Linked DNA regions of Homo sapiens: region 2 is linked to region 1. Evidence: fine-mapped expression QTL. A gene starts in region 1. The other region holds a variant in brackets. All regions are shown on one strand. Distances are from middle to middle. Region 1 holds the start of PRADX (PRC2 and DDX5 associated lncRNA). Region 2 has its middle 22 kb from the start of IFITM10.

Region 1 (4,384 bases):
CAGGTGGGTGAGGTCAGAAGGCTGCAGGGGCTGGAGCTGGCTGGGCCAGCTGGGTAGGACTGAGCCTCACCAAAGGCTGTGGGGAATGGCCCGGGGGCGGGTAGCCCCAATTAAAGTCGTTGTGGGGGAGTAGCCACAAGCCTGAGCCTGCCTTGACCTTGCCAGCCTATCCACAGGCCTCCCCTCTCCAAGGAGGACAGACACAGCAGAGGGGAAACGATCCTGGGGCTTCTTGGAGGGAAGGGTAGCTGAATCCAAGCCCTCACCCGATTCCAGCTCTTGTGCGACTGATACTATTACACCTGCTTCCTGGTCCCTGGAGGGCGTGTCCCTCCCCCAGGACAAAACCTGGAGCTCTTCCAGCCCACCAGCTCTTAGGCAATAATCTCATCTTCCGGGATCACGCCCCTGACAAGCCAGGAAAAGCCAGCTATGACCTTGTACTCTCAAGTCCCTGGGGCAGGGAAGAGGTTTTATTTAAGTGATTAAAAGCCCAGGGGAGCTTCCTTGGAACAAGGAGTGGGTTCACACCAAGGGGAAGGCCAGTGGCCCTGGGGGAGGAGCAGGGACCCCTCTCTCTCTTACTCGCTTCCTGGGTTTAGAACTCAGGACCCCGATCTCAGTCTGGAGCTCCCTCCTGCACCCTGGCTGGCGGTGTGCTGGGTGACAGGACTCTGGAGGGGTACCCTGAGTGCAGCTGTCGGAGGAGGCAGGGCGGTGGGGGGGGCAGCACAGAAGCCTCTAAGGCCCCAGGTGCAGTCCTGGACCTCGTGGAGCCGCATGGAGTGAGGAGAGGTGCGGATGCCCAGAAACAGATGTGGGATGAGGGCACTGGGCAGCCACAGGGTCCATGTGGAGGAGGACAGGTAGTCAAGGAGGGCTTCTGGAGGTGGTGTGGAGGGCCCATCTGATGGCCAGAGGAGGCCAGGCAGAGCTGCCAGTGCCAGCCTGGAGGTGGGGCCACCTTCGTGCAGGTGTCTGGGGGTGGAGAGCAGGTGTGATGGGGGCTGGGTACAGTGGGCTGCCTCAGAGCACTTTGGGCAGGAGTGACAGGTACCCGCCAGCACCCTGAGCAGCCATGCTGGCCACCATCCTGGAAGAGACCAGCGCAGGTGCAGAGGGAGGACGGGAGACCCTTGGGGGCTTTGGAGCCTCCAGAATGGCTGAGGAGAGGAGGGTTGGGCACACTGGCCCCCAGGTTGGGTGTGTGGGGCTGAGGTGGGTGGCGGGTGACCACTTCTTAGGACTGTGGCCTGTGCAACCTGGCGGGGGGCAATGGGTTGCCATTCACTGACTTGGGGGAGCTGGGCCAGCAGTTTCCAGGTGACAGGCAGGAGTTTGGTTTTGGCTGTGGCGACTCTGAGATTCCCCAGGGGCCTCCAGGTGGATGTGCAGCATTGGCAGCGTCGGCCGGCAGGCGGGAGGGCCTCCCTGATATGCCCCGACCCGTGGTTGACAGGATCCCGCTGCACAAGTTCACGTCCATCCGCCGGACCATGTCGGAGGTTGGGGGCTCTGTGGAGGACCTGATTGCCAAAGGCCCCGTCTCAAAGTACTCCCAGGCGGTGCCAGCCGTGACCGAGGGGCCCATTCCCGAGGTGCTCAAGAACTACATGGACGTGAGTATGAGGTCTTAGCCCTGCTGCAAGCGGAGCCACTGTCAGGAGAGCTCCGTGGCAGTATGGGGAACATTCCCACCTCCTGTTCTCAGCAGCGCAGTTTGAGTGGCTCACCTGGCCACGGTGGCGTCCCGGCTCAGCCACACTCCTTTCTTCCCCATTCTGGAACCTCCTGCCACTGGCCCCTGTCATTGCAGGGTCTTGGTCCTGCTAGGGCCTGGGAGGGTGATTGGGAGTGGCCTCGGGCCTTGGTGCCAGCTCGCCTGAGGGGGCGGTCCTTGGGCCTGCCTGAGTGTGGCCGGCTGACCTGGAGCCTTTCACTGCTGTCCTGCTGGGAGGCCTGTGGTGACTCGTGGCCTCCCCAGCCCCTCCCCATCTTCTTCCTCTCGCAACAGCCCCTCCTGTGCCCACTACTCCTTCAGGGGGAAGCAGGATCCAAGGTGGAGCACTCTGGAAGCCACCTAGCAAGCTGGGGCTTGGTCAGCCTGGTCCCAGCTCTATGGGGTCAGTTCGAGGCCAGGGCCTACTGTCCAGCCTCGGGGCTCTGGCCCACTGTGGGGGAGCCTTGCCCTCTGTCCTGCTTGGCCCGAGTCCTGGCTGTGACAGGAAGCCCAAGACTCACAGGCATGTGACTGGGCCAGGGGGGCCCTGGGGGGAACCAGGCGCCGTGTGCCTGGTCCCGACTGGCCAGTTCCTGATTGTCCTAGCGCGCGAGCAAGCAGATGCACGCATGCGCACACATGCACACACACACATGGAAATTTGCTGAGTGTCCCCCTGCCAGTGGTCACTTCTGTGGGGCCATGAGTCAGCAGCTGCTGCTGCTCCGTGAAGCCAGGCGGTTGGAGAAACATTGGGCTGGGCTGGTGCCAGGAATCTGGTGGCTGACGGTGGCCCAGGCTCCAATCCTGGGGGAAGCGGGCGCCCAGGCGACCCCAAACTCCAGGACCCTCTTACTCTCTGCCTCCTGAGAGGCTCGGCGGCATGGGACCCCTTGTACTTGCCTGATCCCTGAGTCAGCACCCCCACCTGCGCCTGCTATCCCTGTGTACACACGGGGAAACTGAGGCCCTGGGCCATTAAGGCAGGGTTGCTGGGCAGGCAGTGATTGTAAGGCTTACCTTCTCCCCTTGACCAGCTGAACCCCTCTGCCTGGAAGCCCTCCAAGCCTGGGGTTCACCCTGGAGGGCAGGGCAGGCACTGAGACACCCAGAATCAGACCTTGACATGGCCCCAACCTGGGGAGGAAGTCACTTCCTTTCTCAGACCTTGGACTGCGGGCCACCAGGGGAGTCTTCCAGGCCGGGCTTTCCTGCACCCGGGGCTCAGGCTGAGGGCCACGTCTGTCCCCACCCTGGCTTGACCTCTGGCCTTGTCTTTTCCGTGGGGAAGTCCTCAGCCTCACCATGTATTGAGCAGGGGTAGGTGACAGAAGCCAGGGGTCTAGAGACCCCAAGTACCCGTGGGCATTAGGACCGAGGGCTGGGGACCTGGCCCATCTTCCCTGCAGGCTGAGCAGGTGGGAGTGGGTGGCTGTTGGCAGCTGTGGGCCCCGTGATGCCCCTCCCTCCAGTATGGGCCTTGGCTCTGGGGACAGCCGGGCCTTCTGAGGCCCAGTGGGGAGATGGGGCCCCCTCTCCCATCCCTGACGGACCCTGTCCCCTGCCAGGCCCAGTACTACGGGGAGATTGGCATCGGGACGCCCCCCCAGTGCTTCACAGTCGTCTTCGACACGGGCTCCTCCAACCTGTGGGTCCCCTCCATCCACTGCAAACTGCTGGACATCGCTTGCTGTGAGTCACGAACCCTGGCCCCGTCGCCCAGGTCCTGCCCTTCCGGGATGTCGCTGCAGGGCTGCCTCAGGAATCACTTGGGCAACGCAATTCTCCTGCCTCTTGGCCCCGTGAGCCAGGCCAGCCCTCCACCCTGCTCCAGCCACTGACTTTCTGGGTGAACCACCAGCTGTGGTCTTGCTCTCAGCAGGGCTGGGGCTGGGGTGGCCACAGAGGGAGCCGGCTGTGGCTGGGAGGGAGGCCCGGGGTCACAGCCCACAGTCCCGGGGCTCTGGCATGATGGTGGGCCTCAGATCCCCTCCAAATCCCACCCTGGGGAGGCAGCTTGGGGGGTGCGGGCTCCATGGTAGATTGTAGGGGGATGGGAGGGCTAAGGCCGTGGCGTGGGCTGCGGGATGACCGGCGGGCCCCCTTGTCGCCCGGGGCAGGGATCCACCACAAGTACAACAGCGACAAGTCCAGCACCTACGTGAAGAATGGTACCTCGTTTGACATCCACTATGGCTCGGGCAGCCTCTCCGGGTACCTGAGCCAGGACACTGTGTCGGTGAGTCCCTCTGGGGCCTTTCCCAGGACTCGAGGGTGCCAGGGTGTGGGGTTCACCCACCGTGGGTATGTGGTTGAAAGGGAGGGCTCGGTGATCCCAGCCCAACCCCAGCCCTCAGGTGGCCGGGGCAGTCAGCAGGGTGAGGAGGGGTCTGGGAATGGGCCTGGTTGTGTGCAGGCTGGAGGGACAGCCTCAAACCCAGGGGGTACAGGGGCAGGGGTCCCCGGAGTCAGGCCACAATGAGTGGGAGGGAGGACAGGGCAGATCGATCGGGCTCTTTTTGGCACATTGGGTTTGAGGTGCCAGCAGGTGTTGAGGGCTGGACCTGGGGCTGCACAGGGTCCCTGCAGCAGGCCGAGGGCTTGGGGAGGCTTGGGGTTGGGAGGATGTACCAGGAACCCGCTGTGGGGGCTGCTGGCGGAGAG
Region 2 (4,384 bases), 32 kb after region 1:
CCACCTGCTGAGCTGGAGGCTTTGCAGGGGTGGTCGGGGCCGCTCGCAGCCAGGACGGGAGATGTGCTCTTGGGAGACTGGCCAGAGAGGCTGTGATGGTGGAAGAAGCAGAAGTAGTCACTGGAAACAGCATCTGAAAATGGCCCACAGCTGATAAGCTCCATCAACCCACCAATTTGAGACCAGTGAAGCCCACACGATAGAACAGTAAATCCCCGGCTGAGTACATCACAGTGGAACTGCACAGCACCAGAGACACAGAGGAAAATGCCTTAAAAGCAGCCAGAGAAAACCGATTATTTTCAAAGCAGCAACGATGACTTTTAGCCAAAATTAATGGGCTGTTCATGACCTATGGGAAAGAAAGGATTTCTTTAAACAAAAACTTCTTAAATGTGAAATATAACGCACAGAATAGTGCCCAAAGTCAATTAAAAGTAAAATTTTTGAAAATGTACAGCTTGATGAATCTTCACAAAGCAATCACCCATCAATTTAACCATACAATATCAAGAAAGAGCACTTTGTCCAGACCCCTGGAAGCCCCCGGGGGCTCCTTCTGACCACCCCTTCGTTCCCAGCTGGGACCCACCACCCTGACTGATCAACACCCAGCAATCAATTCCAAGTCCTTGTGTACATTTTTACGACCTAAGAGTGCATCCCTCAGCGCCGTCATCTGTTAAACAGGCTCCTGACTTTTGGAACTTTTTATGAATGGAACCGGGCCATGCACTCTTTTGTGCTTGGTGTTTTGCGCTGAGTCACCCCCGGCGATTCACTGGGGTGCCTATGAATTTTCATTGCAGACTGACATCCATTGCATCATGTACCACAGCGTACATATCCATTTTACCACCGACAAACGCTTGGGCGGTTTCCGTCTTGGCATTTAGGGGTACCACTGCTGCAAGCATCCTTGTGTGTGCTGCTCGGGGCCCCCAGAACCCATGTCTCTCGGGCAGATCCTTAGTAGTGGGATTGCCGAATTATGAAGTCTGCTGATCCTCCACCTCAGCAGGCGACGCCCGCCCTCCAAGATGGCTGCGCCTCCCCCAGCAGTGTGTGTTCCCACCGTTTCATTTCCTCCCCAGTGCACCTGCTGTCAGTCTTTTTTTTTTTTTTTTTTTTTTAATTTTTGCCACTCAGGGGAACATGTGGTAGTATCTCGTGGTGGGTTTGGTTTGTGTTTCCCAGATGGGTGAGGAAGTCGAGCGTCTTTTCTGCGCACAGACTGGCCATTTGGTTTTCCTGTTTGTGAAATGACTATTTCAGTGTCTTGACCATTTCTTTCCTACCAGGCTGTCAGTTTCTCCGTGATTCTAGGGGTTCTCTCAGGACAGCGTGTCCACGTCCTCTGATGGTTCTACGCAGTGCAGATAATTTCTTCCGCTCGGAGGCTTTCCTCTTCGCTCTCCTAGTGGCATCTTTTTATAGACAGAAGTTTCCAATTTTAATATAGTCACAATTACCAACATCTTCCATTTGGTTACTGCTTTTCTCGGCAAGACACAAATAGAGTGATCATAATGAAAAACGTTGATGCATTTGACAAATCTGAGCACAGGTGGGGCAACTTCTGGGTTGCTGGGAAGGTTCCGTTTTCTGATGCTGGTGGTGGTTGCATGACTATTTGCTTTATAAAAGTCATTAAGTTGTACATTTATGCTTGATGTAGTTTTCTGTATAATATTTATGTCTTTTATATATTGCAGTGTTATGTATAAATGCCA[T/C]CAATGGGAAATAACTCAAATGTCTACTGACATATTTTCATATGCATATGAAAATAAAATAAATAACTATGAACATCTTTGGGTTCAAGTAATATCTCTGAGAGAAATTAGCCTTATATTTATTCATAAGTAATTCCAATGCATAGAAAGAATATCTCCAGAAGAAAAGTGGCTCTGGGAATGGAAAGTGAGCAGTGGTGATTAGTAATTTTTATTGTGAACTAAGCTGCACAGAGAGGAGAATGTGGGGGCATCCCTGTGGGGAAGGCACTCGAGGAGGGGGGCAGGAGGCTGGGCACGGAGAGGAGGGGCTGCAAGGAGGGGGCCAGAGCCATGCCTGATGAGAAGGGCATCTGCGGGGAGATGGGCAGTGGCAATGGGAGGGAGGTGATTACACCCAGGGGGTCGGTAGAAGAAGTAAAGATATTGAAGTAAATGGGAGTCTGCTTTCTCACTGTGGGCAAAGAGAGTGACAAATATTGAAAGGGATGAAACTAGAACGCAGCCTGTGGTGTTGGATTGGAGTTGGAGGAATCCATTTATTCTCCAGCTCCTTCCTCTAAGAGGCTCTGAAAGCAGCAACCCCCCAGTGGCAGACCCTGGCCCCTAAATACCACTCACCACCGACAGGACCCGGGGCTCCCTGGGGAAGCAGCTGATTCCAGGCTGAGACAGGTCAGGGGCAGGATGAGCCAGGGCGAGGACATGCAGAAAACACGCAGGAGTCGCTTCCCACCGGCCACGCCAGAGACAACTTGAGCATCAAAGCCAATAATGTTAGTCAAGATTACAGTTTATTGCATAAAATAGGAACCCGAGTTTAATACACTGATGTTAATACATCAATAAACTGGTAGTTGAACAACCACAGTGATCTTTAGTTCCAAAGAAATTTCCTAAAGAGTCATCGCAATCACAAAGAAACTTTATGACTTTATGCCTTCAGAGGTAACTTTACAGGTGGGGAAGCCCAGCAGGCATCACCTTGATCAAATGATCAAAGTGAATGTCATCAACAACCAGATAAATTGAAACTGTTCACCACCTGATGGGATGCACTGATAAGAACGGAGTCGTTTCTGTGATATTTCTGCCGGTTAAGGACTGAATGTTTGTGTCACCTCCACTGTGATGGTATTGACGGCAGGGCCTCTGGGAGCTGATCAGGGTTAGATGAGGTCGTGAGGATGGGACCCCCATGATGAGGTTAGTGTCCTTATGAGAAAAGACACCAGAGGGCTTGTTCTCTCTCTCCCACAGCCTGTGAAGACACAGTGACAAGGCGGCCGTTTGCAAGCCAGGAAGAGAGCCCTCACTAGGACCCAAATCTGCCAGCACCTTGATCTTGGTCTTGTACTTCCAGCCTCCAGAAATGAGAAAGAATAATTTTTTTTGTTTCAGCCACCCAGTCATATTAGCTGTGGCAGCCTGAGGTGACTAATATCCTGCCAAAAACGCACAGCCAAACACCAGGCAGACCCAAACTGAGGGATCGTGAGAATAGATCTGGCCTATAATCAGAAGTGTCGAGGTCATGAACGTCAAGGAAAGATTGAGGAACCATTCCAGACAAATGTAATTAGGCACACTCTCACTCTGCAGTTTGTCTTTTCACTGTCTTAATGTTATATTCTGATAACTAAGTTATTTTTTATTAAATTCCATTTATAATTTTTATCTTGTATGACTGATGTTTTTCATGTCCTGTTAATTTTTAATTTCTTTTTTCTTTATTTTTTTTTTACTCACTTCAGGGTCATGAAGCTTTTCTCTTAATAGCTTTATTGTTCTGCCTTTTGGATCTAGGTCTGTGCTCCACCTTGGATGAATTTTTGTGTATGATGTGAGGTGGGAGGTCGGGGGAGCTGAGGACACTGTAGGTCCTCCACCCAGGTCTGCTTGGGTCATACCACTGTTCCTCTGTGCCCCACCCCCAGCCTCAGTGTGCATCTGTCTCCAAGAGTCCACGACTGAGATGGTACTTGGGAAGACCCTGTATCTGGACTTCATATCCCTTTCACAGTCTTTAGTCACTGCTGTTTCCGGCTGGAGCCCCAAAGCCAAGCTCCCCTGTCTGCATCAAGATAAACTTATGATCTATGATCAAGAGTTGCCATTGATTAGGCAGAAGCTGGGCCTGCACAGAAACCCCCACTCTCCTGAAATCTTACTTCCCTTCCCCCATTTTCCTAGGAGCATGTCCCCAGTAAATTACAGACATGGAGATCTTCTCACTTCTGGTTCTGCTGCCGGAGAACCTGAACCAACTCCGGGGCAATGTTAGTATTTTTATTCTTCCCATAGAGACGTCCCAGTGCTGCCATGTCCCTCATGGAGAAGACCATCTTTCCCCCACTAAGTTGCAGGGGCCCTCAGTGGTTTGTTGGGTGGCCGTAGAGACGTGGTGCATGTGTTTCTGGACTTCAGTCTGTCCCACTGGTCTATTTATCTGACTTTACAGCAGCATCAGACTGTCTCCATTCCTGTGGGAATACTATCTGTATTAAGTCTTCATAACTGGTAATGTTTTTCAAGGAATTTTTCCATTTCATTGAAGCTGCCAGATGTATTGACATAAAGTTGTTCATAGTATATTTTTATTCCATTTTGGATGTCTGTACCCACATTTTCATTTCTGATCATCCTATTTC

Evidence for each region. PIP is the estimated chance that this variant, and not a neighbour inherited with it, causes the effect.
Region 2: its variant is fine-mapped to the expression of PRADX in whole blood (INTERVAL, PIP 0.98).

Annotation. Positions count from the first base shown.
Region 1 is chr11:1,758,544-1,762,927 of GRCh38, reverse strand. It overlaps PRADX (PRC2 and DDX5 associated lncRNA), which reads right to left and starts at 2,580. Exons shown (of 2, transcript NR_182291.1): 1 at 1,734-2,580; 2 at 442-1,609. CTSD (cathepsin D) reads left to right here. Exons shown (of 9, transcript NM_001909.5): 2 at 1,460-1,619; 3 at 3,289-3,412; 4 at 3,841-3,959.
Region 2 is chr11:1,726,084-1,730,467 of GRCh38, reverse strand. No RefSeq gene overlaps it. Among named protein-coding and RNA genes, the nearest start is that of IFITM10, 22 kb to the left of the region's middle. The variant T/C (reference allele first, on the strand shown) is at 1,734.